7 linked regions of the Homo sapiens genome follow. The protein of the gene in region 1 interacts with the protein of each later gene in a biochemical or structural test. Each region holds a gene or a part of one and is shown in the gene's direction. Other genes may lie near its edges. The genes, in order: PDLIM1, ZSCAN30, TRMT13, SLC5A12, PLCB1, NCBP2L and SLC22A3.

Evidence for each region.
Region 2: the proteins of PDLIM1 (region 1) and ZSCAN30 interact in a test that uses a peptide from one of them, tested with the Homo sapiens proteins (one large-scale study listed by IntAct).
Region 3: the proteins of PDLIM1 (region 1) and TRMT13 interact in a test that uses a peptide from one of them, tested with the Homo sapiens proteins (one large-scale study listed by IntAct).
Region 4: the proteins of PDLIM1 (region 1) and SLC5A12 interact in a test that uses a peptide from one of them, tested with the Homo sapiens proteins (one large-scale study listed by IntAct).
Region 5: the proteins of PDLIM1 (region 1) and PLCB1 interact in a test that uses a peptide from one of them, tested with the Homo sapiens proteins (one large-scale study listed by IntAct).
Region 6: the proteins of PDLIM1 (region 1) and NCBP2L interact in a test that uses a peptide from one of them, tested with the Homo sapiens proteins (one large-scale study listed by IntAct).
Region 7: the proteins of PDLIM1 (region 1) and SLC22A3 interact in a test that uses a peptide from one of them, tested with the Homo sapiens proteins (one large-scale study listed by IntAct).

Annotation. Positions count from the first base shown.
Region 1 is NC_000010.11:95,266,649-95,270,975, reverse strand, and holds part of PDLIM1 (PDZ and LIM domain protein 1), read left to right. Parts: intron 1-2,113; coding exon 2,114-2,198; intron 2,199-4,327. UniProt on the Homo sapiens protein: Cytoskeletal protein that may act as an adapter that brings other proteins (like kinases) to the cytoskeleton. Involved in assembly, disassembly and directioning of stress fibers in fibroblasts.
Region 2 is NC_000018.10:35,283,325-35,287,651, reverse strand, and holds part of ZSCAN30 (zinc finger and SCAN domain-containing protein 30), read left to right. Parts: intron 1-4,327. UniProt on the Homo sapiens protein: May be involved in transcriptional regulation.
Region 3 is NC_000001.11:100,146,151-100,150,477, forward strand, and holds part of TRMT13 (tRNA:m(4)X modification enzyme TRM13 homolog), read left to right. Parts: intron 1-376; coding exon of another isoform or gene 377-522; exon of another isoform or gene 523-1,743; coding exon 1,744-2,176; exon of another isoform or gene 2,177-2,474; coding exon 2,475-2,670; 3' UTR 2,671-2,891; coding exon of another isoform or gene 2,892-2,947; 3' UTR 2,948-3,217; coding exon of another isoform or gene 3,218-3,285; 3' UTR 3,286-4,327. Other genes in the region: LRRC39 (leucine-rich repeat-containing protein 39), read right to left, coding at 3,218-3,285. UniProt on the Homo sapiens protein: tRNA methylase which 2'-O-methylates cytidine(4) in tRNA(Pro) and tRNA(Gly)(GCC), and adenosine(4) in tRNA(His).
Region 4 is NC_000011.10:26,715,039-26,719,365, reverse strand, and holds part of SLC5A12 (sodium-coupled monocarboxylate transporter 2), read left to right. Parts: intron 1-3,011; exon of another isoform or gene 3,012-3,093; intron 3,094-4,327. UniProt on the Homo sapiens protein: Acts as an electroneutral and low-affinity sodium (Na(+))-dependent sodium-coupled solute transporter.
Region 5 is NC_000020.11:8,715,795-8,720,121, forward strand, and holds part of PLCB1 (1-phosphatidylinositol 4,5-bisphosphate phosphodiesterase beta-1), read left to right. Parts: intron 1-469; coding exon 470-554; intron 555-1,876; coding exon 1,877-2,054; intron 2,055-4,327.
Region 6 is NC_000023.11:107,783,816-107,788,142, forward strand, and holds part of NCBP2L (nuclear cap-binding protein subunit 2-like), read left to right. Parts: intron 1-4,327.
Region 7 is NC_000006.12:160,346,295-160,351,413, forward strand, and holds the start of SLC22A3 (solute carrier family 22 member 3), read left to right. Parts: upstream 1-2,083; 5' UTR 2,084-2,125; coding exon 2,126-2,554; exon of another isoform or gene 2,555-2,728; coding exon of another isoform or gene 2,729-2,764; intron 2,765-2,785; exon of another isoform or gene 2,786-2,891; intron 2,892-3,363; exon of another isoform or gene 3,364-4,376; intron 4,377-5,119.

The DNA of each region.
Region 1 (4,327 bases):
AGTTTGAGACCAGCCTGGCCAACATGGTGAAACCCTATCTCCACTAAAAATTAAAAAATTAGCCAGGTGTGGTAGCGTGCACCTGTAGTTCCAGCTACTCGGGAGGCCGAGGCAGGAGAATCACTTGAACCCAGGAGGCAGAGTTTGCAGTGAGCTGAGATGGCGTCACTGCACTCCAGCCTGGGCGACAGAGCGAAACTCCATCTCAAAAAAAAAAATGTCCTTAGGATGCTGCTGCTACTGCATTGTGCTGAGCAGTGGGTACCATGCCAGGAGATTGCAATAACAGAGAAAAACTTGAACACATTAGCAGCAGAGTACTGAGTGTAACTTTAGGTACATGACAAGCAAGGAGCGCTGGGGATAAAAGAATGAATGAGGGTAGCACCTTGGGAGCTGTAATTAGGGTAGAATTTCCATTCTTCTTTCATTTAGCCTTGGAAGGGGTCCCGCAAAGGCAGGATTTCGGAAGTGATTTGGTTCAACCCTCAGTTGGCTCCCTGTTTCCTACTGCATCAAATTCAGATGTTTCATTCTGATCACCTGTTATCTCACTAACCTTAGCTGCCACAGCTCTTTGTCATGGAGCCTTTGGTTAGATTCTCATCTGTGAAGTATGTTTTTTGCTTTTTTTTTTTTGCTTTGTGGCACAGGACTGGCAGGTGGATCGAGTGTGGGGGAGTATATAAAAATATTTTGTACACTTCAGAGACCTACCCCATGAGAGGTACACTGTGTTATTACTACCCCCTCAAAAGCACATCTGCCCTTCATTCTCATCTCCATTTCTATCTTTGTCCAAATCCTCTCCTTCAAGCCCGAGTTCAGGACATTCATTCATTCATTGATTAATTGATTTTTTATTTGTTTACCGGCATGTTGAAAAGGGACATCTTGTATATCTGGCATAGACATTGTGACAAATATAAAGTTAAGTATGGCCAGGTATGGTGGCTCTAGTCTGTAATCCCAGCACTTTGGGAGGCCGAGGTGGGTAGATCACCTGAGGTTAGGAGTTCAAGACCAGCCTGGCCAACATGATGAAACCCTGTTTCTACAAAAACACAAAAAAATTAGCTAGGGATGATGGCAGGTGCCTGTAATCTCAGCTACTCGGGAGACTGGGCTGGGAGAATCGCTTGAGCCTGGGAAGCGGAGGTTGCAGTGAGCCAAGATCACGCCATTCATTGCACTCCAGCCTGGGCGACAGAGCGAGACTCTGTCTCAAAAAATAAATAAATAAAATAAATAAAGATAAGTATAAATATTTTCTACCTGCAAGAGAGGAAACAACGACACTAATGAAAACTGAGACTAAAGTAAAATCATTGCTCTGTGGTTGGTACAAAGAAAATAGTTTATAAGAGCAAAAGAGGGGCGTTCTTCTCTTTTTTTTTTTTTTTTGGGATGGAGTCTCACTCTGTCACCCAGGCTGAAGTGCAGTGGTGCTATCTCAGCTCACTGCAACCTCTGCCTCCTGGGTTTAAGCAAGTCTCCTGCCTCAGCCTCCCGAGTAGCTGGGATTATAGGCGTATGCCACCACACCCGGCTAATTTTTGTATTTTTAGTGGAGATGGGGTTTCACCATGTTGGCCAGGCTGATGTCAAACTCCAGACCTCAAGTGATTTCCCCACCTCAGCCTCCCAAAGTGCTGGGATTACAGGCGTGAGCCACCACGCCCGGCCAAGAGGCATTATTTTCATTTGGGTCAAACAGGCTTCACAAATAAGTTGGTTATTTGGTCTGGACCAAACACACTGGGTTGAGATAGAGGAGAAGCCCATTCTATCCTGAGCAGAGATAGGGCAGTGTGAGTCATGCTTAGGAACATGGAGGAGACCACACTGCTGGTGTCAGCTACCCAGAGTGTGGTGAGGGAGGATGAAGTGCTTGGGAAGCCCCTTGGGGCTATGCTGGGGAGCCATCAGCCATGGATGTTATCAGATTGGGGTGTTTAAAAGATCAACCTGGTGGCAAATGGAAGGTAGAGCTGATGGGAGGGTGCTAGTTCAGTGCCTAGTCCAGGAAAGAGGGGGCATTTTTCCAGTTTGTCTTTGGTATATATTATTTATTTTACATGAGTGAAACAGCAGCTTTGTTAATCTGTTGCAGATCTGAACATAAAGTCTGGTCTCCTCTGGTGACGGAGGAAGGGAAGCGTCATCCATACAAGATGAATTTAGCCTCTGAACCCCAGGTAAGTTCTTGCTCATCGTTGCCGCTGCTCTCACCACCCAGCACTTTGCCGTTTCTGACACTGCTCAGCACATTCCTGTTTTTCCTGCCCTGGAGGCCTGGGGATAAGACCCTTCACTGTCTCTGCTGGTATCTGGCTCTTGTTCAGTTCTTCCCGTAAGGGAACTGCAGGAGGATAGGGCTGGAAAACCCCAGGGCAGTGACGCTGTGTCCTGGGCTGGAAGCAGGGGGTCGGAAGGCGATAAGGGAAGCCGGTGGAAGCCTTCCTGCGTGGGAAGGGTTGGCAGGATCACAGTGAAGTCAAGGAGCTATTCAGCTCGTTATGGATTTCAGCAACAAATGAATCATGACAGGGATGAAAATAAGTTTAGGTCTGGAGGCCTAGAGCCTAGAAGAAATCGGGGAATATGTAATAGGAAGCCCTGCTTCTCCCCACTGTATGCCCCTGTCTGGTTTCCATGAGCCATGGAGTGGAAATCTCTATTTTTGTTACAGTGAAACTTCTAGTGAGACTTTAAAATTACTAAAATAAAGCAGCAATTAATATAAAAAAAAGCAGTACATAGTGTACAATTTGTCACCCAGATAGAATTTCTCAGGACAGTAGACTGCCCTAAGATCCCATATTTGTGAATAAATCTCTCAGTAGTTGGATTATTGGATTGTAGGTGATTTTATTTCTTTCTGCCTTATGTGCCTCTTCTAAATAATCTACAAGGCATGGGTATTGTTTTTGAAATAAGGGACAAACTTAGAGATGTTTAGAACATCTTTTGTAAAATTCCTCACACCCAACATGCTACTTGTCTCAAAGTATGTGTCTGTTGGATACATTAATGAATTAGTAATGATAAACTAGGTATGTTGATAATGCCTTTTGAAAATTTTACACTGGTTTGTGATGGTTATGCATTTGACCCAAGTTGAAGATTTGAAATTTAACTTATTTTTCTAAATTTGGGATACTATTTAGTTTTTATGGTGAATTAAGATGTAATTAAAATACAATATATAGCTAGCTATCTTTTATACATAAAACAGAAACTTGTATGAAGTTGAACTCACTTGGTATATTAGTGTGTGTTAATTGGGTGGTTGGATATAAGTCATATTTTCTCAAATAGAATCCATTAAAATTTCAAAAACGAAGTCACATAAAATTTTTGCCATTAAGATAGTAAAAATAATTATTAAAAATCCCAAGAGTCATTTTAAGGATCATTTTGCATCATTTCAAAACTGATGTGAACATATTCTTCTATACAACTCCTCTCAGGAAAGTTCGTAAAATGGCACTTGGTCTATACACTGGCAGTTGTGCAAACTAATTTAAAACATGCCACAGTTAGTTTCAGTTTCCTTGGGAGTTCTCAGCTACTTCATTAAATTTACCATAAATGTTAAATTTTAATTGTTAAATTTTAATTTTTACATATTTTATAACACACAAGGAATGATTTCGTTTTAACTTGGTCTATCTGAAATCCTCATTTTCATGTAAATAAGGTAATTATGTAAATTTCAGTTATAGTTTTCATTTGTAGTATATTTGAATTTTCATTTTAAATCTGTAGTTACCTGTATTAATCTTTTGAAGGTAGTTCTCTTCAGATTACAAAAATTCTCAAATACTTTAAACCCTTGTATTTTTCTTGTGATTCTAGTAATGCTTTATTACTGTAAGAAAAACTTCTCACCCATCATTTTTCCAGTCTTTTACTTCCAGCCATTCTAAAGTAGAGGATAAATGAGTAAGAGCAGAGTTCATCTATAATAAAAAGATCTGTTGGTTCATGTAATGCCAACCAACACCCCAGCTTATCTGAGGTCAGCATAGTTACACACCTAGTTTGTACTTCCTCATTATTGAGTTTCCTTGGAGACTGATAAATACAAAGCCCAAACAATTACATCATCCCTTCTAAAAGGCAAGCCCTGAATCTGCCTGCTTTCTGGAAAGACCAGTCAGTATTCAGATGAGGGTAGAGATATTCCTTTTATGTACAAACCAGATGCATTCTTGAAAGATTCTTTAGAAAGTGAAATCATCCGAATTTTCAACCTGAATTTTCCATTGACTTCCATTCTAATTGGAAATGTGTTTCGGTGGAGGGAGAAGGGAACAGACCC
Region 2 (4,327 bases), on another chromosome or scaffold:
CATCTGGAATTAATTTGTTTCTACCCATACAACTCTGAGATTTAGGGTAAAGTTAATTTTTTTTTTTTTTTTTTTTTGGTATGTGGATATTCAGTTGTTCTGTACCATTTCTTTCTCCTCTGAGTTTCCTTTAAGCTTTGTAAAATCAGTTATCCATATATGTGTGGGTCTATTTCTGGCCTCTCTATTTTTTCATTGATCTACTTGTCTCTTTAGTCCAACACCACACTTAATTACTCTAGCTTTATAATAAGGCTTGAAATCAGGTAGTGTGAGACCTCTAATTTTGTTGTTTTGGTTATTCTAAGCCCATTGCATTTCCATATCAATTTCTGAATCAGTTTGTCAACTTCTACAAAGAAGCTATCTGAGATTTTGATTGGGATTGGATTGAATCTGTAGATCAATATGGGGAGAATTGACATGTTAAAGCAATATTGAGTCATCTGATCCATGAACACAATATTTTTCTCAATTTATTTAGGTCTTCCTTAATATCTCTCACCAATATTTTATAGTTCTTTTTAATATTTTACAGATCTTTCATAACTTTTGACAGATCTATTCCTAAGTATTTAATATATTTTGATGCTATTGTATTTTTCCTTTAATTTCAGATTGTTTGTTGGTAATATAATAGAGAAATACAATTGATTTTTGTATATTAATCTTGTATCTTGCAACTTTGTTAAATTCATTTATTAGTTCTAGTAGCTGTTTTTGTAGATTCTATCAGATATTCTACATATGAGATCAGTTTTACTCCTTCCTTTCCAATCTGGATGCCTTTCTTATTTTCAGCGCAGTAAGGCAGGCAAAGGGAGGTGGAGAAAGGCATTCAGATTGGAAAAGAAGAAGTAAAATTGATCTTTATGTATATCAGTGTTCGGTAGAAATGAAGAAAGGGGAAATCTTTGTCTTTTTTCCAATCTTAAGTGAAGATCTTTGTCTTTTTTTTTAATCTTAAGCATCCTTTCTCTGTTAAGCATGATGTTAGCTGTGGTTTTTTTTATTGGTACCCTTTAACAGACTGAGGAAGTTTTTTTCTAATTCTAGTTTGGTGAGAATTTATATCAGGAATGTAGGATGGATTTTGTCAATTGCCTTTTCTGTATCTTTTGAGAAGACAGTTTGTTAATATGGTGATTTACAATGATTGATTTTTGAACATTAAACCAAACCTGCATTCCTGTAAAAAACCCTGCTTCACTGTGATGTATTATCCTTTTTATATATTGTTGGATTTTTCATGAAGAATATTGGCCTATAGTTTTCTTGTAATGTCGTTGTCTAGTTTTGGGATCAAGGTAACGTGGGCCTCAAAGAATGATTCAAAAAGCATCCCATTGTCTTCAGTATTGTTGAAGAGTTTGTACAGAATTGGTATTATTTCTTCCTTAAATATTTGGCAGAATTCACAGTGAACCTATCTGGACCTAGAGTTTTTTTGTGGGAAGGTTTTAAATTACAAATTCAGTTTCTTTAATAGATATGGTGCTATTCAGGTTATATATTTCTTATAGGGTAAGCTTTAGTATTTTGTATCATTTAAAGAATCAGCCAATTTTGTATAAGTTGGCATAAAGTTGTTTATAATATTACTTTGTCCTTTTTGTATCTGTTGAATCTGCAGTGATGTTACCTCTTTCATTCTTGCTATTAGTAATTTGTATCTTCTCCCATTTCCCCTTGTCGGATAGGCCAGAGCTTTGTCATTTTTATCTTTACAGAGAACCAGCTTTTCATTTATTTAAAAATTGTCTTTCATTTTCTGGTCTATTAATGTCCACTCTGTTCCTTATTATTTCCTTTTTTCTCCTTGCTTTGGGTTTAACTTGCTTTTTTTTTTCTGGTTACTTTAAGTGGAAGTTGAGGCCTCTGATTTGTAATATTTCTTATTTTGTGTTATAGAAATTTGGTGCTATAAATTTTCCCCTAAGTACTGCCTTAGCAGCATCTCACAAATTCTGATGTGTTGTCTTTTTATTTTCATTCAGTTCAGAATACTTTGAACTTGGATTATTTCAGTTTCTAAATATTTGGGGGGTTTCTAGAGATTTTTCTGATATTTATTTCTAATTTAATTTTATTGTAGTCAAAGAACATACTGTGTATGACTTGAATCCTTTAAAATCTATTGAGACTCATTAATGGCCCAAAACATGGTCTGTCTTCATAAATGTTCCATGCACATTTGAGAAGGATATATTAATATATTCTGCTGCTGTTGGGTTGACTATTTGATTATTGTTAGTTGGTTAATGGTATTACTGAAGTTTACTATATACTTTGCTGATTTTCTACTAATTTTAAAAGTAATTATTGAAAGATGAGTATTGAATTCTCTGTCAATAATTGTGGTTTTGTCTATTCTCCTTGTGATTCTATCAGTTTTAATTTTATGTATTTTGAAGCTCACAATTTGCATAAATGTTTAGGATTGTTATTCCTTTTCCTTTTTCTCTTTTTTTGAGATGGAGTCTCTCACTCTGTTGCCCAGGCTGGAGTGTTGTTGATGGCAACAGTGGGCCATCTGGACCATCTGGAGTGGCCACTGCCAAGATGCTGGCTGCAGCCAGGAGGCTCTGCCCATGCTGTGAGCTTCACAGAGCCAGAGGGAGCGGGGACAAGCAGGAGCCCAGCTCCTTCCAAGTTGGCGGGTGGGAGCTCCCCAGGCATAGCTGCAGCTGCCCAAGTCATGGCTGCTGGCTGAGCCTCCCTGTGTTCTTGGAGACCAGGAGCAGGCAGGAGCCCTGCTCTCCTGGGTGCAACTGCAGCCACCCAAGTCCTTGCTACAGACCGTGTTCTTGGAGGCTGGGAGCAGGCAGGAGTGCCAAAGCAGGCAGGAGTGCTGGAGCAGGCATGAGCCCTTCCTGCATCCCCCACCTCCTTTGTGCAGCTGTAGCCACCCAGGTTGTGGCTGCGGACCAACCTGGATATCTCTGCACTCTAGGGGCCTGGGAAGGCACCCCCACCTCAGCAGGCTTGGAGGTATCTGCTTCTGCTGCCTGGCCTCTCCCTGCTCCTGGTGACTGCTCTGATCTAGGAGCAAGGTTGGGGCCGAGCCAGGGTGCTGTTGCAGCCCAGCCAGTTGTGCGCATACTTGAGGCAGTGCTGACAGGCCATTCCTCTGCTGCTTCAGCCCCCTCCAGACTTTGGGTGCTGACAAACATAGAAGGGAGGCTGAGGGAAGGCTGAAGGCAGTTCAGCATTTGCCTGCAGGTGCTTGTCCCCACGAACAGCCTGGGCACCATAGAAAGCAGTAGGAGGCGACATGCTCTGAGGCAGAAAGGGGCGGGTCCCCAGAAGGCCTGAAGCCTAATGGCCAGGCCACCAGTCCCCCTGACTGGAGGGGGAACTGGTGGTGCTTTTTCTTGGACCTGCCCATGGCCACCAATGGACCAATCAGCATGCACTTCTTCCTCTCTGAGGCCCATAAAATTCCCTGGACTCAGCCAGACTGGGGGAGAAGACCTGCCAGCAGAGAGGAGCTACCTACTCCAGGGCCTCTTTTCTGCTGAGAGCTGCAGAGACAACAGGAGGACCAACCTGCAGAGAGGAGCTACCCACTTCAGGGCCTCCTCTTTGCTGACAGCTGCAGCGATGATGGGACAAGCTGCCTGCAGAGAGGAGCTACCCACTCCAGGGTCTCCTCTGAGCTATTCTGTTGCTCAGTAAAGCTCCTCCTTCTCAGTAAAGCTCCTCTTCACTTTGCTCAGCCTCCACTTGTCTACATACCTCATTCTATCTGGATGCAGGACAAGAACTTGAGACCTGCTGAATGGTGGGGCTGAAAGAGCTGTAACACAAACAGAGCTGAAACATGCCCCTTGCTCACCACATTGCAGGCAAAGAGGAGAGAAGAGCTGTGGCCCTTCAGGAAGCCCAGACCAGGAAGCTCCCTGAGCCAGGATTGTGACTCCCGTTGGGGCCCTGCATTTCCTGGAGTCTCCAAGCTTCTGGGCACCACTGTGGTGTACTTAGTCCAGTCACAGCCTTGCAGTGAGCCAGGGCCCGTACTGGCACCTGGAGCTGCCCACCCTGCTGCAGCAGCCAGCGTGCCTGACTGTGTGCAGTGGCCAGACCCCACACTCTTTCGCTCACACATCCCTTGCTACTTCACGCCTGGCTCACCCTTGGCAGGGGCGAGATACAGGCTGGTAGCATTAGCCAAGCACAGCCTGCCAGGCTGAGTGGGCAGAACGATCCCAGTGGGCCCAAGCAAAACTCAGGCAAAGGCACCACTGGCCACAGAGGTTTCTGACTAGAAAAGCAACACCCCAAGTATCCTGTGACACAGTGGCATGATCTCATCTCATTGCAACCT
Region 3 (4,327 bases), on another chromosome or scaffold:
ATCCTTCACCTCAGTTGTCACCACTCTCAGGGAGCTCCCTTAAATAAGATATGCCTCCTTGGTGTTATCATAATACCCTCTGCATATTTTTACCTTGTGGTATTTTAATTATCTGTTTATATATCTAATTCTTCCACCATGCTCTGAATTTTTTGAGTATATGGTATATACTTAGTACGATGCTTGCTATATAACAGGAACACAGTGAATATTTGAATGAATGAATAATCTTGGCTACCAATTTGCTGTGTTTCCTTGTCCCTTTCTGCATATGTGGCTTTGTCTTTTAAGTTCTTTATAAAAGATGAATTGAGATAAATTGCTAAAGCTCCTTCTAATTCTGAAATAACTTAATTCTTTTTTTTTTTTCTTCGAGACGGAGTCTCGCTCTGTCGCCCAGACTGGAGTGCAGTGGCGCAATCTCGGCTCACTGCAACCTCCGCCTCCCGGCTTCAAGCGATTCTCCTGCCTCAGCCTCCCGAATTGCTGGGACTACAGACTCGTGCCACCACGCCCGGCTAATTTTTGTATTTTTAGTAGAGACGGGATTTCACCGTGTTAGCCAGGAAGGTCTCCATCTCCTGACCTCGTGATCTGCCCACCTCAGCCGGCGTGAGCTACTGCGCCTGGCCTGAAATAACTTAATTCTTTTAATAATTTATCTGGTTATTCACATTTCTGAAAATCACTTACTTAAGTCAAATATGAATAAAACAATGACTAAATGTATTTTGTCAGAAAATAATAGTTTATGAAATAATAGATTAGCTATCACTTTCTGCAAATAATGGGTTTCTAATGTTTGTTGACTTAAATTCATATATTGAATTAAATTTACTAGTGAAATATCAGATCATTTAATAGTCATTTGTGATATCTTAGGGTAATAAAATTTTAAAATATGTATATGTTTTTGATTGAACAGACACAACATGACAATCTAATGATTAAGAAGATATGGGTCCTACATTTTGGGTCTTTCCAGTATTGTCAACAGTGTAGGAGTTTTCGATGGGAAATAGCCATAGTCATCAAAAATCCATTTATTTAGTTTTAAAATATACTAAAATATTTTCATTGTAATGTGGAGTACATCTGCCTCTTAAGTTTGTGTATATTAATAATTGTATCCTCAGTGCTTTGCACATGAAAGGCATTCAGTAAATGTTTGTTAAATAAATGAATAAATACAGTAAGGCTACTCAGTGAGGCCTGCTTTCCAGATTCTGTTCTGACGCCCTCTTTTCAACTCTTCAGTTCATCACTATTTGCTATGAGCCTCTTCAAGACAAGCATCTTGACCTAGCATCAACCTAAACAGATTTGTCTGCCCTTCCTCCCTCCCTTCCTTCCTTCCTTCATTTTTCCTTTCTTAAACTAGAATGTAAGTGTAGGTGAATAAAGTTTTCCCATACAAGTCATTTCCTCAGCTAAGGTAGGAAAAGTGAGAGACAATTCAGGTAGTTGGGTAAAAGTTCTTCAAATTGTAGATCTTAAGCTTCAGATAGCTTTATTGGGAAGTAGGCTTTATGCAGAATAAATCATTAAAGAAATTGAGAAGATAGAAGAGCAAATTTGAATGAAGTTGATAATTCATGATAGTATTATTACAAATATAAAGCTGAGTAGGTTTTTGCTGTTTTTATTGTTGAGTTTTTAAAAACAGTACTGCTTAATAAATGTAAAAAGTATTTATTTTTAAAGATGATGTGGTTTGGGGGGGCCACATAATTGTGTTTGCAGATCTTGCATTACGATGTTTGGTTGAAACCTATGCTGCCAGTTTTGAGGAAAGGAATGAAGAACCTTTAGCCAAACGCATAAAGAATGATAAAACAGAAAAAGAAATTTACACTTTGGCCAAGGAAGGAAATGAAAAAAATGTCCCAGAGAAGTGGAACCCTGTGGCTGGCATTGTTATTGCACTCTGTTGTCACCACAGGTGTGATTGGAGACATTATGTGGGCAAAGAATATTTCAGGGCTCTAGGCCTTGGAGCAGTGGAATTCCATTATTTCCAGCGAATGAGTAGTTGGGCAACTTGTGGGATGCGGAAAACATCTTTGGAAACCTCAAATAGTACCACAAAGAGGCAAGATAATCAGAATGATGATAGTGAAGAGCATGATGATGGAGGATACAGAATCACAGATGATGGCGCTGATTGTTTGCCTGGGTAAGAGACTACTTTTGTAATGCATGATACTAAAGGAGAAATATTATATTGTACTGTACTTTAGATGACTATTATCAACAATTCATGAAAATGTATTTTATAATCTAATTTTAGAATAAGCTAAAATATACACATCTTTTATTGTGGTCATAAATATAATGTGTCTTGGAAGCATGGGACAAAGTACTTAGTACATTATGGGTTAGTTAACAGTCTCTCAATAAATAGTGACAAAAATAATTTTTTATAAACTTTTGCAAAATTTTAACAATGTTTTGTGTGTGTTTATTCAATTTAGGCTTCTTAGTGTTGAAGAAAAGAAGAAAATAGGGCATCTTTGTAAATTGCTGATTGACCAAGGTCGAATCCAGTATTTGCAGCAGAAGGGATTCAGTCCTGCTTTGCAGTACTATACAGACCCTCTGGTGTCTTTGGAAAATGTTTTGTTAACTGCTTTACCAAATCATTCTTCATCACCAGAAACAACTGCTTAATGGAAAAGAAATTTGAGCATCATCTGTCTTCCACCAAAAAAAATTTTTTAATTATATTTTTATATCAAAAAAATATATACTTTAAATAGCAAATAATATGAACTTTAAAAAATGCTGTGGCCTCATTAAACTTTGGTAATAGCTTTTCTTTTTACTTCAGAAATCCAAACATTAGAGAATTCACCAAAGTAATCCTCTTTAGAAGGGCATCTTGAATTATATTATCCATCCGTATTTATGGAGATTGGTAAAGTAGTTGAACCGTTGACTTGGTGATCTGAAACATACATAACATGTCAACACATAATTAGCGTATTTCTGTTTGTATTAATTTTGGAAATTTATCTTCCTTTGATTTTATTTAATATTTTTTATTTCTTAAGTTCAAGAGGTAGTGATTGATTGTAACAAGGGCCAATCTGAGAATTTGACTTATATGTGGACATTTTTCCCTACAGATCTGGAAAGCACAATTGTGATTTTCTCAAATGCAGACAATTCAGAGATATTCACAATTAATAAACACAATTAATTAATGAAGTCACCTTCAAATTTCCAGAGCCATACATGTATATATTGTCAGAATCTGTCCATGACAAACACAAAACTGAAGAGCTGTTTTCAAAGAAAAAAGATTATTTCACTTAATTATTTTGTTGGATAATTGTCTAGTTAGAACTTCCAAAAAGATACTTACAAACATAATTCACAAATTTGAAATAATTTCTGAAGTTGATTAGCTATCTCATATCTTTTATCAGGTCATTTTTTATATATGTAGGCACAAACAATAAGTATGTTCTCTTCTGTTTGGGAAAATAATTTGGAATAAAATAGAAATTAGATAATGAAACCAAAAACCTTCTCAAATTTAGGCCTTATTTAACTCATGACTGGTTTCTATGCACAAGAAAATACTAAACCAAATATATGGTAGGACTGTTATTCTCTTCTGCATCTTATCCCTATTTTGTTTCTGCCTTTATTTGTAAAAATTGTCTTAATTGATGGTACATTTGCCAAGACAAAGGTTCAGAATTACTAATTTTAGATATTATGATATTCTGAAATAACTATTTTTATCCTGTAGTTCTATGATTATATGATTTGTAAATAAGAAGCCTAACCAATTTAAAATTCCTGACTTTAGTCTCATATATCTTGTCAGACTGTCTCGGTTCAAATTCCAAACCTACCATCTTCAGTTGTGCGACCTTGGGCATGCTACCTAATCTCTTTGTGCCTCAATTTCCTCCTTTTAAAATGGGGATGATGATGATAACAATAATACCTACCTCACAAGGTTGTTGTGAGCATCAAATGAGATAACACAAGTAAAATGCATAGAACAGTTCCAAGCACAGAGTAATTCAATAAATATTAACTAGTAATAGTAGTGGTAGTAACTCGTGAATCTTTTTAATAACATAATAGGCTTTGATTTTATTATCTCTTTAAGTTGTTAACTTTTTTCCCTTGTTATAAGTTTTATGTCAAGTAAGGTAGTTTGTTTAAGTTAGTTACCCATGTCCCCAATCAAGGGAACCTAAATGAAGATATATCATTAAATAATTAACCTTTTTTTATTGTGTCAAGCAATACTAATTTGTGTCATAAAATTTGTTTTGCATCATTCAACAATTTATGCCCAGAAATA
Region 4 (4,327 bases), on another chromosome or scaffold:
TGTAAAGGCACATATACAATGAGTAATTTCACTCTGCACTGCATGATATTTTAATGCCGTAATGCTCAAAAACTACTGCACATATTAGTATTACCTTAGTGCACAGTAACTTTACAATAAAAAGTTATACACACACTATAAATTAGCACATTTTCCAGAAATTAAATGAAATAAAAACACTGTCTTAAAATTATTGAACAATTTACTTACTTTGAACAATCTGTCTATTCCATATGTGCTGCTCATTACATGCTTAGCCATAACTGGTTTTAGTAAAATGGCCTAGTTACTGCAAAAACAACTAAACCAATTGCAATTATGTAACTGAGGAGATTTGATTCTCTTTTTAAATTAATAAATTAGTACAAGTATTGAAAATATAAGGACTTCATTGAATTTAATTTACTAAATTGTTTTTAAAATATTTACTATTTTTGCCTCTACATATTTTCAACTTTTTAGTGACCTAATAGTAAGTAATCCAGAGTGTGTAAAGTAGATATAAGGTTATTTTGGGATTACCTCTTGCTTTATAAAAATTGGCATTATGGCATGCAAGTTAAAAGTATGGACTCTAGGCCAGGCGTGGTGGCTCACGTCTGTAATCCCAGCATTTTGGGAGGCTGAGTTGGGTGGATCACCTGAGGTCAGGAGTTCGAGACCAGCCTGGCCAACATGGAGAAACTCCATCTCTACTAAACAACACACACACACACACACACACACACACACACACACACACACAAAATTAGCCAGGCATGGTGGCGCACATGTAATCCCAGCTACTCGAGAGGCTGAGGCACGAGAATCACTTGAACCTGGGAGGTTGCAGTGAACTGCCGAGATCCACTGCACTCCAACCTGGGCAACAGAGTGAGACTCTGTCTTTAAAAAAATAAAATAAAAAAGACTATGGACTCTAAAGTCTGTTGACTTGGCTTTCAGTGTCAGCTCTGCCACTTGCTAGCTGCATGACCTTGGCGTAAATTACTTAACTTTTATATACCTGGTTTTCACATGTGTAAAATAGTGGTAATAAAAACATCTATCTCAAAGGATGTCTGTGAGGAGTAAATGATTTATTGTATACAAATACTTTTAACAGAGCCTGGCAAATAGTAAATACTATGTAAGAGTGTTGCATTATTATGATCATTGTTGTTGCTATCTTCAAATTTATACCACTTAATCTGTCTATAGTATCTGGAGTTTCTGTTTCTTTCTTCAGCCTCCATTCTCTAGTAGTTATTGAAAGGTATGCTTTCTAGGGTCTTTTTAAATACTAAAGACTGAAAGAGGTGGAGTCTCTTTATCCACCCTGTGAACTTTGGCCAGTTTTGTGACTTGCTTTGACCAGCAGAATGTAGCCAAAGTGATGTTCTGTGAGCTTGGAGCCTAGGCCTTCTGAGCCTTGTAGCTTCTGCCTTTGTCCTCTTGGAATGCTGCCCTGATACTGCTATGTAAGGAAGGTGGCATAGCTGATCTAGCTTCAGGAGCAGCAGTGGACACATAGAGAACAGAGACACCTAGCCAACAGCCAATACAAGTTACCAGACCTGTGAGTGAGGCCATGTCAGACCTCTCTCCATTGATCTTCCAAGTTACTGAAGCTACATGAAAGTCCTGATGAAACCAGAGAGATCACCCAGCCTGACCTCAGAGTTATGAGAAATAATAAATTTTTGGTTTTTGAGCCAATGAGTTTGGAGGCGAGTGTTATATAGCAATAGCCAACTGATTTAAATGCCTTGATATGCAGTGGGATTTCAAGACTAAGATATGCCATCTGTGCTACTTTATCACTACCCTGTCACAAGTCAATGTATAGGGAATTCTTCTCACCCTCAAGTGATAATTTAGGCTTAGCTAGTTTGCAATATCATATATTTTCATTATCTCAATTGTACAGTTTGTTATTAGTCTCATAATATTATCTTCACTTTAAAGTTATTTCCTTCCTTCTCTTATCATACACTCATAAATCTAGTTTGCTATTATTTACCTAATTTAATATTGGCTTATAGGCCAATGTCTACCTGTTCTCTCATATTTCTTGGACTTCTTGGCTTCTGAACTACTTACTTCTCTTCAATTTCAAATTTTCTTTATGATAATGCCCGGGCTACTATTTCACTGTGTTTTCTTGTACAGTGGTTTCTGAGCATTTATACATTACATACTTTTTTTAGGTAAATGCTTTCCTTTTAGTTCTCCTTCAAATAACAGTGGTGGTATTGTTAGTAATTATATTTATATTTTGAGAAATTCAATGTTTATCTATAAGATATTATTGAATACTATTTCAGCAGAGTGAACGGTGCTATATAATATTTGTTGTAAAAGAGATATTTAGGGTCTGAACCAACGTTATGGGGCCTTTTAGGTCATCATAGGGATTAGCTTTTACTCTAGAAATGATGGGTCATTACAGTGTTTGGGAAGGGAAGTGACATGATGGGATTTGTATGTTAAGAGGATTACTCTAGCTAGATATTAAGAATAATTTTAGGGCTTTTACTGCTGAAGCGGGGAGGTAATTGGGAGTTTCCTTACATAATCTGAGCAAGAGATGATAGTAATAGGGTTGTAAGAGAGGATGAATGCAAGTAAATATGTTTTGAAAGTGGGGGGCAAGCACCCAGATTTCTTTTATGAATTGGATGTGGGGAGGGAGAGAGAGGAGTAAAGGCTGGCTCTATGTTATTTGGGCTCGAACCAACCTGAAAAGTAGAGTTGGTATTTCCTGAGATGGAAAAGAGTATGGCTGGATCAAGTTTGGGGTTCTGAAAATAATCCATCATAATGTTGGTAAATGTCACCTCAGGTATTTTTACAAGCAGGCATGAAGCATGCAACTTCTCTGTTGTATTTTTACTTTTGACAATAGGAATAGCTTATATATACACCAAAGGTGACCACTGAATGAATGAGTGAATACATTGAAAGGAAAAGTGGATAAATTCTTTCAGATATAGAATTATGCAGTTGCAGTAGTCTTTCTTCTTTCACAGATGAGAATCCTGAAGCACAGATCACAGAGTGAGATGCCAGCAAATCTCAAACTGGAATTCAAGGAGGCTGATTTCTGATCAGGTCTTTATTCATATAGCTTTTCCCTAGTACTGTCTTTGTAATTTTACTGGGTTGAGTGGAACTTAACTGAAATGCGAAAACCATTGATTTTTTTCAAGATCCCTATAGCAATAGCCTCGTGGCTTTACTGGTTTTCAGGATTCGTTGCCCCTTATGTTTTCCAGACTTCCTTGTGCCACCCAGTACCAAAGCTAATGCTACATATTTTTGGTTTTTGTTACACCTCCCCACTTCTAGTGCCAATCTTTGTATTCATGATTATCTATTGCTATGTAGCATACTACTCCAAAATAAATGTCTCAAAATAACAATTTTAGTTTTTCACAATTCTGCAGATTAACAATTTTGCCTGGCTCAGATGGGCCCCATAAAATTGTGCTGGTCTCACTTGGGACCATCTATGTGACTTCCATAAGGTAGCTAGTTGGCTAGCAGCTTGCTGGCCTAGGGGAATGCAAATGAGACAGCTTGTCCTTGTTACCTTTAGTCTCATCCTCCTGTAGGCTAACCTGAGTTCTTCATGTGATAGAAAAGAGTTCCTCTCAGAAAGAGAACACACCTCATTACAGAAGCATTTTCAAAATTTGTACTTGCAATATATTTACTAGAAATGTCTCTGTCTTAAGTTGCATTCTACTAGAAGCAGATCCTGAAACAAGGATTTGAATGCAAGTTGATTTGGGGGAAGTGATTCTAGTAAGCAGTGATAGACAAGTGGCAACGTGAAACAGAAGAAAAAGATGCCAATTAAAAATGTAATTTTGAGCAGGTTACCACTGTGAACAACTGGGGTTCAATCCAACTGGGGATCTCTAAGAGACAATATAAAGTGCGTCTCAGGGTTGTCCTCACTGAAAGGCAAAAAGCCAGGGTATTTTGTTCCAACCCCATTTAGTAATTGGCTGAGTGCCAATGATAACACCCTCAAGCCTTCTGATCTGCCCTATGGCCCTGTGCAAAGGCTCAGAACACTCTCAAGCAGATAATCTCAGGCACATTTAGATGCCATCAACATGTACTGGAACAGGGAATGCCAATAAACTATGGGTGTTGCACCCTCAGAGACCACAGCAGTCATTAAATCCTACTATAGCCCTAGCTCTGTACCTGGCATTATCATACTTCCCACCATCTGATCCATACAACATCCACTTTCAGAAGAGAAAATCATGGCTTAGTGGCAGAAAATAGTCTTCCCAAGGGCACAAGATGTGAACCCAAGGTGTCTTCACCA
Region 5 (4,327 bases), on another chromosome or scaffold:
CCTCCCTGCCATCCTTCCTTATCTATCCTCTTTCATCTCCTCATAAACACTCCTTTGCAGCAGTGGTTTACAAATTTCACTTGATAATTTACATGGAAATATGAAAGGGTTCTTTCTCCAAGTGTCTTGCAATTGACTTGGAATCAGCGAGTTAAACAAAAGGGACTGAGCCTCTAACTCTGGGAATTTCAAGGCTCCAGTTACAGCAAATGACATGCTGTCCCCTCCACCTATGTCTATGCAGGTCTGCCTTGGGAACCACCTCACACATCAGTGCCTTCGCTGTCCATCTGTGTATGTTATTCAAATTCACATAAGTTAAGATAAAGATCCAGGATGATAAAAACCAATCCTGATGGGTGGGATTAGAGAATTACTTCTTTCTGTAGTTAATAACACAAAGCAATCCTGTTCAGGTTCTTTGGATAAGCCTCCCTACTTTCCTTCTTCTGTTCTTGTTCTCCCTTAGCCCAAAGCAGCAAGCCAAGATGGCGGAGTACTGCCGACTGATCTTTGGGGATGCCCTTCTCATGGAGCCCCTGGAAAAATATCCAGTAAGCAGTTCTGATGTTTGTCCTTGAAGGAATGTATGCATTATTGATGAATGAGGTTGAGGGAAAACTTACTTCCTTTTCATATTTATGTTTCTTGGTAAGATTAATGCAGTTGGTGATGAAATCTTTGACAAGGAGGATACCAGCAATGGGCCCCACTAAGGGTAGAGGAATGCCTCTGCACTCTTCCTCTTCCCACACTCTTCTCTCTCGCTGGCTGCCTGATGAAACTCAATCAAGAGTGCAGATTTCCCAACAATTACAATCAGCCCATAGAGACAGTCCAAGAGGACAGGCCTCTGCTCACTCCCAGGGAACCTCGTCACACCTCTTTGAGATGAATGGATTGGCAAAACAGGACACTGCAGGTGGCACAATGTCTTCTTGGCCTGTCCCTGCTGGCTGTTCTCTATTTCCTTGGATGCACCTTTTGGTGTGGCACAACTCAGGTCGCCCATTGCATTGATGATATCTCTGCTTTGGGAAGGAAAGCAGCAGAAATATCCTAAAGTAGCATTTTCCTTCCCGCACCCTTTTGCCCAATCTCCATGCATTTGTAAGTGAGTTTATACCAGTCCCTCCGCTCATTGCAAGCCAAGAATAGAGGACTAACTTAGGCATTCTATAGATTTTCTTAAAGTAACCTATCTTGTGGCTTGCACACATGCTCTCTGATACAATATCTAATGACCCCCTCATGGGAAATTGATTTTCCCGTTAGATGTACAAACTTGAAACAGTCAAAATAAGGCTTGCAAATGTGGTAGCTTGAATCTTAGGGCTGGGAGGAAATCTGAAGCCACCTCATCCACTTCTGTTGATGCCAGGGACGTGCAGCTAAACTACCTAGTACCAGGATGGGGATTTTGCTGATTTTAAGGGGCATCTGAAAAAATGATTTCATGGGCTCACCTGGAAGCTTCTGCCCGTCTTTACCAACTCCTCCTGGCAGATGCCTGGCTTCCCTCCTTCAAAAATTCAGGCCAGGGCCTTCTTATCTGTCCTAAATCAAGATGATTGGGTTTCTATGTTCCATTGGAAAATTCATAAATGTTCAGATTTAGTACATCAAATCTACCAGTACATTTCTATGGTCTTCTTCATGTAGAATATGTTGAAAAAAAAAGTATAGTAATGAAAATATATCTTTGATATAAAAAAAAATTAGCTCCCATGTAAGATACACTAAGAGTTTAATGAGCAGTGTTGAAGGTAGGGAAGAAGTCTAGACATTTGGTATCCACAGCTGATCTGGGGGTCTGGGGAGGGGATCTGAAAGAGGGAGCAGTATTTTTAAAGAATATGCCTTTCATTTCTATTAGCTGGAATCTGGAGTTCCTCTTCCAAGCCCTATGGATTTAATGTATAAAATTTTGGTGAAAAATAAGAAGAAATCACACAAGTCATCAGAAGGAAGCGGCAAAAAGAAGCTCTCAGAACAAGCCTCCAACACCTACAGTGACTCCTCCAGCATGTTCGAGCCCTCATCCCCAGGAGCCGGTGAGGGGCTGGTGGGCTCTCCCCGTCATGTTTTGTGTTGGTTTAAGAATTGCTGCTCTGGGCTGTGCGTGGTGGCTCATGCCTGTAATACTACTACTTTTGGAGGCTGAGGCAGGTGGATTATGAGGTCAGGAGTTCGAGACCATCCTGGCCAACATGGTGAAACCCCGTGTCTTTGGTGGCCAACATGGTGAAATCCTGTCTCTTGCAAAAATACAAAAATTATCTGGGCATAGTGGCACGTACCTGTAGTCCCAGCTACTCGGGAGGCTGAGGCAGGAGAATCGCTTGAACCTAGGAGGCAGATGTTGCAGTAAGACAAGATCCAGCCACTGCACTCCAGCCTGGTGACAGAGTGAGACTCCGTCTCAAAAAAAAAAGAATTTGCTGCTCTGAAATTAGCTTAGAAGGACTTTGAACATTCCTATTTCTGCACAGTTTTGAACTACTGGTTTTCTCTTGCTGCTACAAACTTAGCGGCTTAAACCAGCACAAATGTATTATCCTCTAGTCCTGTAAGTCAGGAAGCCCCCTGGGTTTCACTGGGCTACACTCCAGGTGTCAGCCGGGCTGTGTTCCTTCCTGGAGGCGCTAAGGGAGAAGCTGTTTCCTTGCTTTTTCCAGCTTCTAGAGGCCACCCACATTCGTTGGCTTGGGGCTCCTTCCAGCTTCAAAGCCAGCAAGGCTGCATTTCACTAACCTTTCTCCTGTGGTCACATCTCCCTCTGACCACAGGCAGGAAATGTCCTCTGCTGGCAAGAACTCAAGTCATTACATTGGATCCATCCAGATAATCCAGGATAATTGCTCCCATGTCAAGGTCTTTAACTCCATCTCACCTGCAATGTCCCTTTTATCATGCAAGCTAACATATTCATGGAGCAGAGACATCTCTGGGAGGTCATTATTCTGGCTACCATGTAAGCCAAATAGTCTTCAGAGTGACCATATGACTTTAAGCTTCATAATGGGAAATATTAACTATAGAACTGAGCACTGGATGCATTGTCATTGATGATATGCTGAAGAGTTCTGGGCATTTCAATTTTTTCATGTTTTAAAGAACTTTTTAAAATCTGTGACATGGCAAAATTACTTAAATTATCTTTTGAAGCTCCTAGAGGATGCCTAATATCATTTCTTTTCCTTTTAAATTAAGGGTGAAATAGATTGCTGTGGTTGATGAGAAAAGAATTCAGTGGCACTCATTTCCTTGGGATTATTTGTCATTTAGTCTGATTTATCTTCCAAGTTCAGTCAGAAGCTTGGCAATCTGAAAATCGCATTATAGACATCTCCTGATTGCAGGGTGATTAAGTGGAAGAAACTTTTAAGCTTGACTGTAGGAAGTTTTTCAGTTATAAGTTAAACATAGGAACAATCAATTGGAAAACTACTTAGCAGTGTCTACAAAAGCTGAATATATGCACTCCCTGTACCTCGGGAGTTCCATTCCTAGGTATATGCTTGCTAAAGATGTGTATTTAGGTTTACCAAGAGACACGTACAAGAATTGCTTAAAGCAGAGGTATTCAGAATAGCCAAATACTGGACACCAAATACTCGTCAACAGATAAATGAATTATGGTATATTCACACAAAGAAAGAATATGCAGCCATGAGAATAATCTATAACTAAATGAAAACTATGGATGAATCACTATAAATAAACATAATATTGAGCAAAGGAAGTCAGGTACACAAAAACTACATACTGTATGATTTAACCTATATAACACACAAAAACAGGCAAAACTAATTTATGCTATTTATTAGAAGTCAGGATAATGGGTTCCCTTGGAAGAAAAGCAACCAGCAGGGAGCCCAAGAGCCTTCTAGAGATTGGTTATATTTTGTTTCTTGATCTGGATATCATTTACTCAGACACGTTTATTTGGTGAAAATTCTTTGCACTGTGGACTTACGACGTGTACTTTTCTGTACGCCTGTTATACATCAGTTATAAGATTTTAAAATAATTAAAATATAAACTCTAGGACAATCAGGGTTAAAAAAAAGTAGCCTGAGACTCTGATTTATCTTTTCTTCTATTTTTCTGTCTCAATTGCCTGTTTTTTTATTGTTTCGATTAAAATCTTTATCAACAGACGTTATATAATTCTTTGAAAGGGTTTTGTCCTGTAGCTTTTGAATGTGTACTTTCATCATTATTGTGCATGTCTTTCAACATTTTTTCAAAAATAATTTCTGTACTCAGTAAAAATGTTCTCTTTGAAGTTTGGAAGTGAGTATCATTAACAGGCCTTTCATTC
Region 6 (4,327 bases), on another chromosome or scaffold:
ATCTACAGTGTTTTCTTCTGGAGCTCACAGTCTGGTGTGCGTATGTGTGTGTGTGTGTGTGTGTGTGTGTGTGTGTCCAGGGTGGGAGCACAGGCAAGTAAAGAGACAATCACAGTATATATGATAAGGATTGTCATGGAATGAAGCACAGAATGGTGATGGAAGGAACAAAGAGTGGGCATACCAAACACAGATTGGAAGGGTAAAGGAAGGCTTCCTAGAGGAGATGATGGCTTGAAGGATGAATTGAGAAGGACAAAGTACTTATCCAAGCCCATTTTTAGTGCCTAGTAGGCATTCATCTAATGAGATGGTGGATGTATAACACTTGGTACCTACCACATAGTCACAACTCAATATGTGGTAGATGTCATTATTGTTACCTGACCTTTTCAAACAAACTTGAATGGCAAGTTATGTTTACTATGAGGAGTATGTAAGATAATGCATGACATGTTAAGTACTTAATATAGTGTCTGGCATATAATAATTGCCCAGCAACTGGTGGCAGTTGATAGTGTTATTGTTGCTGCTATCATTATTTTTAGGTTTGGCTGGACTGAGATAGATGGAATCTTCCATCTCTGATCTTTTGGGTCATTCAACTCTGCAATTTGTTACATGTTACATTATTTCATATTACATGAAATTACATATTACATATTTATATATGTAATATGAAATTACATGTTACACATTACATTTTTTCAGATATAATGTCTGCAAGCATGCTTATGTTCAGAACTTTTCCCGATAACAATCTCTGGCCCCAACCATAACAATCTCTGGCCCCAACCACCGCTACCACCATCACCAGCCACATGGTGTTCTCAAGTTGTGGTCTCCACAAAGCATATAGGAAATAGAGGAGCTGGGCAGATGCGGTGGCTCACGCCTGTAATTCCAACACTTTGGGAAGCTGAGGCGGGTGGATCACTTAAGCTCAGGAGTTCAAGACCAGCCTGGGCAACATGGCAAAACCCCATCTCCACAAAAAAAAAAAAAAAAAAAAAAATAGCCAGGTGTGGTGGCATGCACCTGTGGTTTCAGCTACTCAGGAGGCTGAGGTGGGAAGATTGCTTGAGCCTGGGAGGTTGAGGCTGTAGTGAGCTGTGATTGTGCCACTGCACTCCAGCCTGGGCCACAGAATGAGACCTTGTCTCAAAAACAAACAAAAGAAAGAAGGAAGGAAAGAAAGAAGGAAGGAAGGAAGGAAGGAAGGAAAGAAAGAAAGAAGGAAAGAAAGAAAGGAAGGAAGGAAGGAGAAAGAAAGAAAGAGAAAAAAATAAAATAGAGGAATTGATGGTAGAAGAAGTGGAACAGAGCTGTTGTTGCCTCTGAAAATATTTTCTTTATAGTAAAGGGATGACATTGGTTTTCTGATGAGCCTCTGTATTTCCAATCTAAGGACAGTTGGTAGAAGTGAATCAAAATCTTTCCCCAACTTTGTTGGGCACTTTTGCTGTTCTGGATAGGAGGGTAGAGTGTATGTAGATTATAAATATGTTCCTCAGTCCAACCCCATCTCCCTACAACAGCTAGCAGAAATTCCTTCTCCATTAGCAATTAACAGTCCCTTTTCCCCTATTTTCCGTAGCTAGTGCAAGTTTTAGTTTTTTGTTGCAAAGCTTCATGGATATTTTAATGGGCATTCCTAGATGGTGGGTATCAGACTGTGTTATCTTGCTGCCATGTTAACCCAGAGTTCCCCCAGATACAATTGGTTTTCTTGCTAACAACTTCAGGGAGAAGGCACAAAAGTCCTTTGCTTTTTCATGGTCCTTTCTTACTGTCTTTCCAGCCCTCTCCATCCTGGGGGCCCTGTTTTCACCAGTCATCTTATTTTACCCAATACAGGAGTCCTCATCCTTTTTGTAAGGAAAAACTGTGTTGTATATTCCTGATGCCTTGATCTCCCTGGGAAGACGGAAATTAAAGGTAGAGGGAAGTTTACTGAATCTGGGGGCTGGCTACCAGGGTGTGGGAGTGAAGAGGATTGGGGAGATGCTGCTTACTGTCTTCCTCTCTGAGCTGAGAATCCAGGTAAACTGCAGAGAGCAGGGCAGGAGAAGGGCGATCATGTTGGAGAGTTAGCTTGCAAGGCCTTGATATTGTTTGTAGATCCCAAGCTACCGATTAGGGGCCCCTGACCTAATATAGTAAAAAAAAAAATGGTTTGTGTTGTCATTGTGGCTATTTTTTAATATCCTTCCAGAGGTATATCTCCCTTCCTGTATTAGCTTTCTAAATCTTGATACTGTGCACGCAGATTGATCCATTTGCCCTACTTTCCACTCCTTGTAGCATTGTCAATTGTCTTTCAGCCACCTCTGGAATTCTGGACTTGGTTTACCTAGCCTTTGTGACCACTCCATATATTGACATACAGGGAGCCTCCAAGCTGCAGACAGGCTGAGCTCTCAAAGTTCACTCTCAAGTCAATTGTTTGGAAGGTGACATGCATTTTTCCATAGGAGAAAAAAATTGTTATAAATTGAACTACATTTCCAGACCAGCCCACAAAAGATGTTTTTAGCTTTAATGTACTAAAAATGTGGGCCATTTGCAATGACAAAGTAGGAAATCTTGGTAATTCAGCAAAAACAAGAAGACAATCCAAGGGAATAAGAAATACTTTTGCTTGACTGCTGGTACTGGAGTCAAGAAAGCTGAACTGGATGAGGTACACAGGGCTTTCCGGAGGCTCTCCAGAAAGACTCATGGGGACTTTGAAAGTCTGGAATCATAACATAGTTCTAAGTTTACTTCAGAACTGATGGCTTTCAATAATAATGACTACCACATACTGAGCACTTACTGTGTGTCAGGCGCTGTGTTAGGCAGTTTACATACCTTCCCCTCATTTCATTTCATTCTCACAACAACACTATGAGGTAAATACTATAATGACCCTTATTTTACAGACTGAGGCTCAGAAGGGTCAAGGAACTTGACAAAAGTTATACAGACAGCACAATTAGAGGCCAAGTCAATGGTTTCCTACTGCCCAAACCTGTGCTTTACAATATATATCTGACCACTCTTTTCTTTTCTTTTCTTTATCTGGATATATTGGGAACACTACTTTTGGGGCTATCAGCCATGATTAGAGTTATGTGCCAGATCACAAGGAAACTAAGATTGGGAAACTAGGAGAGGTGGTACAAGGGAGAGAAGGAAGGAGGAAGGGACAGAGAATTTTGTTAGGCAAAAGTTCAACTAAGAAACCACATACGTCAGTGCTTCTCAAACTGTACTGTGCACTCAAATCACCTGAAACTCGTTAAAATGAAGATTATTATTCAGCAGATCTAGGGAGGGGCCTGAGATCCTGCATTTCTAAAAAGCTCCCAGGTGTGCTGCTCCTGCTGGCCCACGGACAACACTTTGAACAGTAAGGCCATATAGTGCAAATGATAAACAAAAAAATTCAAGCATCCATTAACACCTGCTTCCTAATTTAATCCAGATCAGCTTCTACACTAAACAGTCACTTATTATCCTCTTTTCTCCTGTAGCCTGTCTCAGGCCATTGTCTCCGCTTTAGTTCTGCCAGTCTGTTTCAGCTTATGTTTGTTTATTTATTTATTTGTACAAATTTAAGGGGTTCGAGTGCAGTTTTGGTACATGGATATATTGCAGAGTGGTGAAGTCTGGGCTTTTAATGTAACCGTCACCCAAACAGTGTAGATTGTACCCATTAAGTAATTTCTCATCTCTCACCTCCATGACATGTTTATGTTTAACTACTCATTTAAATACAGGTGTTAAATACATATGAACATCTTCTGTCACTCTGAGCACTAGGCAGTCTCAATCAGACATGAATTTCTCTTGGCACAAAGTAGATATTTGGCCACAGGGTTCCAGTCCTCAACAATGGCTCTCAGCTCTCTCACCCATTAGGAACAGTCTTATAAAGGTAAGGCATGTAGTAACACTACTGTCCCAGCGCTTTCTAATTTCCTTTCTTAGAGCTACTGCCTTCATCTGGAGCAGAAAGTAGCCTGGCTTTTTAAAGAGTCCAGATCCTTGTTCCTTTCACATAGTTGAAACAATCCCAGCATTAGTTTAAGGCAACCATTGAAAAGATTCTTTGCAGAGTCCTGCCAACTCCAAAAGCCCAGTGAAGTTTGTTTCCTGGAAGATAATTTACTTTATTTTGCCACCTCCTCTCCTCCGTCCTCTTAGGATTTTGACTGATCATTTTGAGCCATTCTTCATGTTTTTCTTCTATTTTTAGACTCTCTGACTAATTTTCTCCAGTAGCAAGAGTCAAGGAAAGCTTTCCACTCCAACCAAGCTCTACTTTTTAGGTAGGAAATAT
Region 7 (5,119 bases), on another chromosome or scaffold:
AAGGTATCGATAGAAGAAAATACAAAACTGTCTGCCCTCATGAAACTTGAGTTGTAATGGAGAGACACAGATAAGATAAATAAATAAAATGAATAAGTATAAATATAAATATATGATAAATGAATAAAAACATATCTATGACAATATATGGTGATGATAAGTGCTTTGGAGACAAAGCAGGAAAGGGGGGAATGTGCTAGTGTATGCAGAGGTTGGGGTGGGTTGTTGACTGGTCCCAGTTCCCTGAAAATTCACTGACAAGAGGCAGATGGCTAGAAGAAAAGGTGTACTTATTTATTTAAGGTGTACATGGGGGCCTTCAGAAGGAAGGCCCAAAGATACAGGGGAAATTGCCTAGTTTTATGCTTAGGTTCAACAAAACATGGAGAGCCCTGTCGAAATAGGATTGGACCAAAAGGGTGTGATCTGATGCTGATACTGAGTGAGGAAACCCAGCGAGGCCGGTGGCTCTAGATTCTTCTTGGCCTCTCTGAGCAGCCTTTTTTTCCTTCTGGGTAAGGGGCAGGTTCTTCTGTGGAATGGGAGGTCTTAGGACTGCAATCAACAAGGTAGAACAGTTGATTTCTTTATGGCCAGTTTTTACACAGACAAGTGAGGGAAAATCACAGTGATATTTTTGTTTTATGACTGGCTTTGGGGAAAAGCGTTCTGGTTTCGATGGCTAGCCTGGGGGAGAATGGGACCGAGAGACAGGAGGGCAGAAGATGACACAGAGACTGCTTCTGAGGCCTTCATTTTGGCGTATTGTTTTCTGAGCTCCAACATTGGCAAAAGGGGTTCCAAGCCGAGATGACCTAAGAGTACAGGCCTGAGGAGTGAGTGGTGTCCCCGCCATACTGAGGTTCTGAGTCTGGGCCCAGGACATGGTTGCACCGAAAGGCAGGGCAGGAAAGGGGAGCTGGGTTGGAGGGGGACAGACTGAGTCTGGGGTCCAGCGGGCAGTTGAAACTGCTGGTGAGGACATGAGGCCAGTTTGAATCCAAGCAGCCTGGCTTCAAACTCCTTGTTCCGGAGGAGGAACCGCAAGTCCTCCCAAGGCCTTGGAGAAAAGTGAGCTAAAGGCAGAACGTGGGCCGATAACGTGGGGGCGTGGGGGGACCGCGACCCAGCCCGGGGAAGGCGTCCCAGCATGGACCCAGCAGCCTGGGCAGCCTGGGCGGGAAGTTCTGATCGCGCTCTGCCGAATTGGCAGGCGCAATAAGTAAGCGGAAAAACCAGGATTCAAACCAACCACCAACACCCTTCCCTGGCGTTCAGACCGAAGGTGGGTGGGAAGGCCCTGGCGAAGGAGGTCTGCATCAGGCCTGGCCTTGAGGCGATCCCTTCTCACCCCAAACCTCCTGGACGCTGAGCAAGCCCCTTCGCCTGTGTGGGTTGCCCGGCTGCCCTCTGGGGAAAGTTGGGTGATCAAATCCCAAGTTGTAGCTCTCGATGGGTCGAGGGCGATGGCCAGCGCTGTGCTGGGAACGGGCAGCCCTGCCCTGCCCTGCCCTGCCCTGCCCTGCCCTGCCCTGCCCTGCCCCACATGGGCGCAGGAGGCCTCCGCACGCGCAAGGGCCAAGGGCTGGAGGGGGCTCTCCCGGGCACAGGCACCGGACCCGGGGCGCGCGCGCGCGTCCTTAGTCCCCGGGCTGCACTCCGGGCCGCTGAGAGATCGGGTCCCAGAAGTTCCGGGAGTGGTCGGGTGACCCTGGAACTTTCTTCTTCTGGAGCCCGACCTGGGGCTGACTGCAGAGCAGGCTGCTGGCAGGGACCAAAAGGAGCTCCGCGCCAGGCCGGAGGCTGCGCCCGTCACTCGCGGTCCCGGCCGGGTCCCTGGCGCGTAGTCAGGCCGCACCGCCCGAGCCCCACCGCGCGCCCACCCCGGCCGGGTGCGTCCGGCTCGCGGCCGTCCCTCCCGCGACCTGTGGCCCGGGGCTGCTGCGGGCGCCCGGGGAAGAGAGGCGGGGGCCGCGGGGGGCAGGAGGAGCGGCTGCGGCCGGCACAGCGCCAGGGCGAGTGAGGCGGGTGGCGCGGGGGAGGCGGCGGAGTAAAGAGAGGCCGCCGGCTGGGTCCGCGGGTCACTCCGAGGCGCGGGCTGCGGGCGGCGGGCGGCGGGCGCACCATGCCCTCCTTCGACGAGGCGCTGCAGCGGGTGGGCGAGTTCGGGCGCTTCCAGAGGCGCGTGTTTTTGCTGCTGTGCCTGACGGGCGTCACCTTCGCCTTCCTCTTCGTCGGCGTGGTCTTCCTGGGCACGCAGCCCGACCACTACTGGTGCCGCGGGCCAAGTGCCGCGGCGCTGGCCGAGCGCTGCGGCTGGAGCCCGGAGGAGGAGTGGAACCGCACGGCGCCCGCCTCCCGCGGCCCAGAGCCCCCCGAGCGCCGCGGCCGCTGCCAGCGCTACCTCCTGGAGGCGGCCAACGACAGCGCCTCCGCCACTAGCGCTCTCAGCTGCGCGGACCCACTCGCCGCCTTCCCCAACCGCTCGGCTCCCCTTGTGCCGTGCCGCGGCGGCTGGCGCTACGCCCAGGCCCACTCCACCATCGTCAGCGAGGTAAGGGCGCCCCGGCCCTTTGGAAGCCGGCGGGAGAGGACGATGCTGGCTCCCAGGCGGACAAGCCGCGTGTGAGACGCTGGCCGCCAGGGGAGGTCGGTGGAGACGGGGACCGGTCGGCTACCTCTGGGGACAGACAGGATTCAGCGCACCCTTGGAAGTGCCGCGTCGTAAATGCTGGGAAAAGCCTTTCGTTATCTGCCTGAGCCCGTGAGTTAATGCACAGATACTTTGGTTTCGGGTGTGAACAAAAACTTTCTTCGAAGCCGAGTTGTAAACGCCTGGCGCACGCCTGCTCAGGAGTCAAAGACCCAGCACCGCGTTCCTTATCTTTGAGGTGTGCGGGCGCCGTCATTGGAAATTATGGTTAGGTGCGCGATAGGGAACTTCAGTCTCTGGGGTGAGCGACGTTGGCAGTTCCGGATTCGCTTATGGTCTCCAGGGTCAAAGGAAAGGGCGAACCAACGTTTGAAGGCAGCAGCAGCTTTTTTCCAGTTGCCCAAATGGTTACTCAAAATGCAAGGGGACAAAGGTCGAGGCTTTCCCGGGGAATGGTTTTGGTAAAATTGCTTTGGGGCAAAGAGCAACATCTGGGATAAGTTGGGAAAACTGAAGTATTGGATAAATTTTAGTTTTTTTTTCTGGTAATAAATTTTAGGAACATAGCGGGAGGGCCACAGCCTTCCAACGCAAATCCCCAACCCATTTACAGGCGGAGGCTGCTGCCGGCGGGTGGGCGGGGGCGATCCCCACATTTTGGGCAGTCAGTGCATTTGGAAGTTAGGGGAGCTTCCTTCACCCTTGCCCTCAGTAATCTGTTTCTGCATCCTTGCTGAAATGGAAGATTGCCTCTCTGTGAGGTCCAGATATAGAGCAGAGTCACTTTGTAATAATCGGAACTCAGAAACGGCCTCAATTGAGCATGGGTTGCAGAGATGAGCAGTTTTACTGAGCTTTGTCTACAATCACAGCTTAAGTTAATTTTAAAAAAAGATTGAATGTGATCAGGTACATTAGGAAAAAAGGTTTGTCTTTTTTTTGTGATAAACTTTAAAAAATCACCTACTTGAAGAGTGGGGAAAACACTGGATGAGGAGGTAGGAGCGCCCTTTCTGCCGCTGTTGCTGTTGGTCTGGTGAGCTTATCTCGCTGCAGTTGGGAGTGTCGGTGGTTGCAATTGTACATGTTTTATACGCCATGTGCTGGTGTGTTCGCACAGTGGATGGCTCTATGCTATGTGCTCCAGGGATAAAACCCATGGCAGGACAGCCAGGCGATGTGTGTATGTGTTTGGGATCTTTCTGTAACGCCGTGTGCTGCTGTGTTCGCACAGTGGATGGCTCTATGCTAAGTGCTCCAGGGATAAAACCCCCTGGCAGGACAGCCAGGCAATGTGTATGTGTGTTCAGGGTGTTTCTATAATGCCACATGCAAGTGTGTTCGCACACTGAGTGGCTCTATGCTGAGTGATCTCAGGATAAACCCCCCTGGCAAGACAGCCAGGCAATACATATGTGTGTTGGGATCTTTAATTTCTACTTAATCCATGGTAAGGCTGGGGACTGCTTTATAATTGGTGATGGTCTGGTTAGAGATTTCACAGTTGAAAGGACAGGGCATGGACTTGGATGAGAGAGGGCATTATCTCTGTGAGTCGCATCTGTTAGGTGGCTTCTTCCACTCCACTCAGCAGCGCTGCCTAATGCTTACTTCCCAAGTGAACCAGAGGACCCACATGGAGGGCAGACAGCTGATTTTTGGAGACATTTAAAGATGAAGAATAAAACGAGCCTCAACAAGTGCTCAAGCGAGGTTTGCATGAGTGAGTATGATCCATGGACATCAAAGAAGACAGACATAAAAATCTGTAATTTAATGCTCTGACGGATACTTTGGAAGCATTCTGGAGTTGCAGGGTTACTAGCATCCCGGGGTTACAATAAGGTGATTTTATGAAGATCAGTGGCTACTAAAATGCAGTGTGGAATGATGGAGGGTCAGGGGCTGGCTCGGTCTCCAGCTGGCTGTGTGGCTTGGGTGAGTTACTCGCCTTCTCTGGGCTTGTATTTTTCCTCTGTAAAATTAGCCATTGGATTCAGCCCGTTACAATGCTCCAAATGCCATCAGGGTCACCACCTGGTTACTGTTTGGTGTGCCCAGAACAATGATTAAAAAGTCTTTAAGAAAGTAGAATGATATTAGGAATGTACCCCGTAAAGCCCCAAAAAAGTTTTTGAAATATATTGGAGAGATTCTTTTTTGTTTTGTTTTGTTTTGTTTTCTTTGAGACGGAGTCTCTCTCTGTCGCCCAGGCTGGTGTGCAGTGGCGTGATCTCGGCTTACTGCAAGCTCCGCCTCCCAGGTTCCTGCCATTCTCCTGCCTCAGCCTCCCGAATAGCTGGGACTACAGGCGACTGCCACCATGCCCGGCTAATTTTTTGTATTTTTAGTAGAGGCGGGGTTTCACTGTGTTAGCCAGGATGGTCTCGATCTCCTGACCTCGTGATCCGCCCGCCTTGGCTTCCCAAAGTGCTGGGATTACAGGTGTGAGCCACCGCGCCCAGC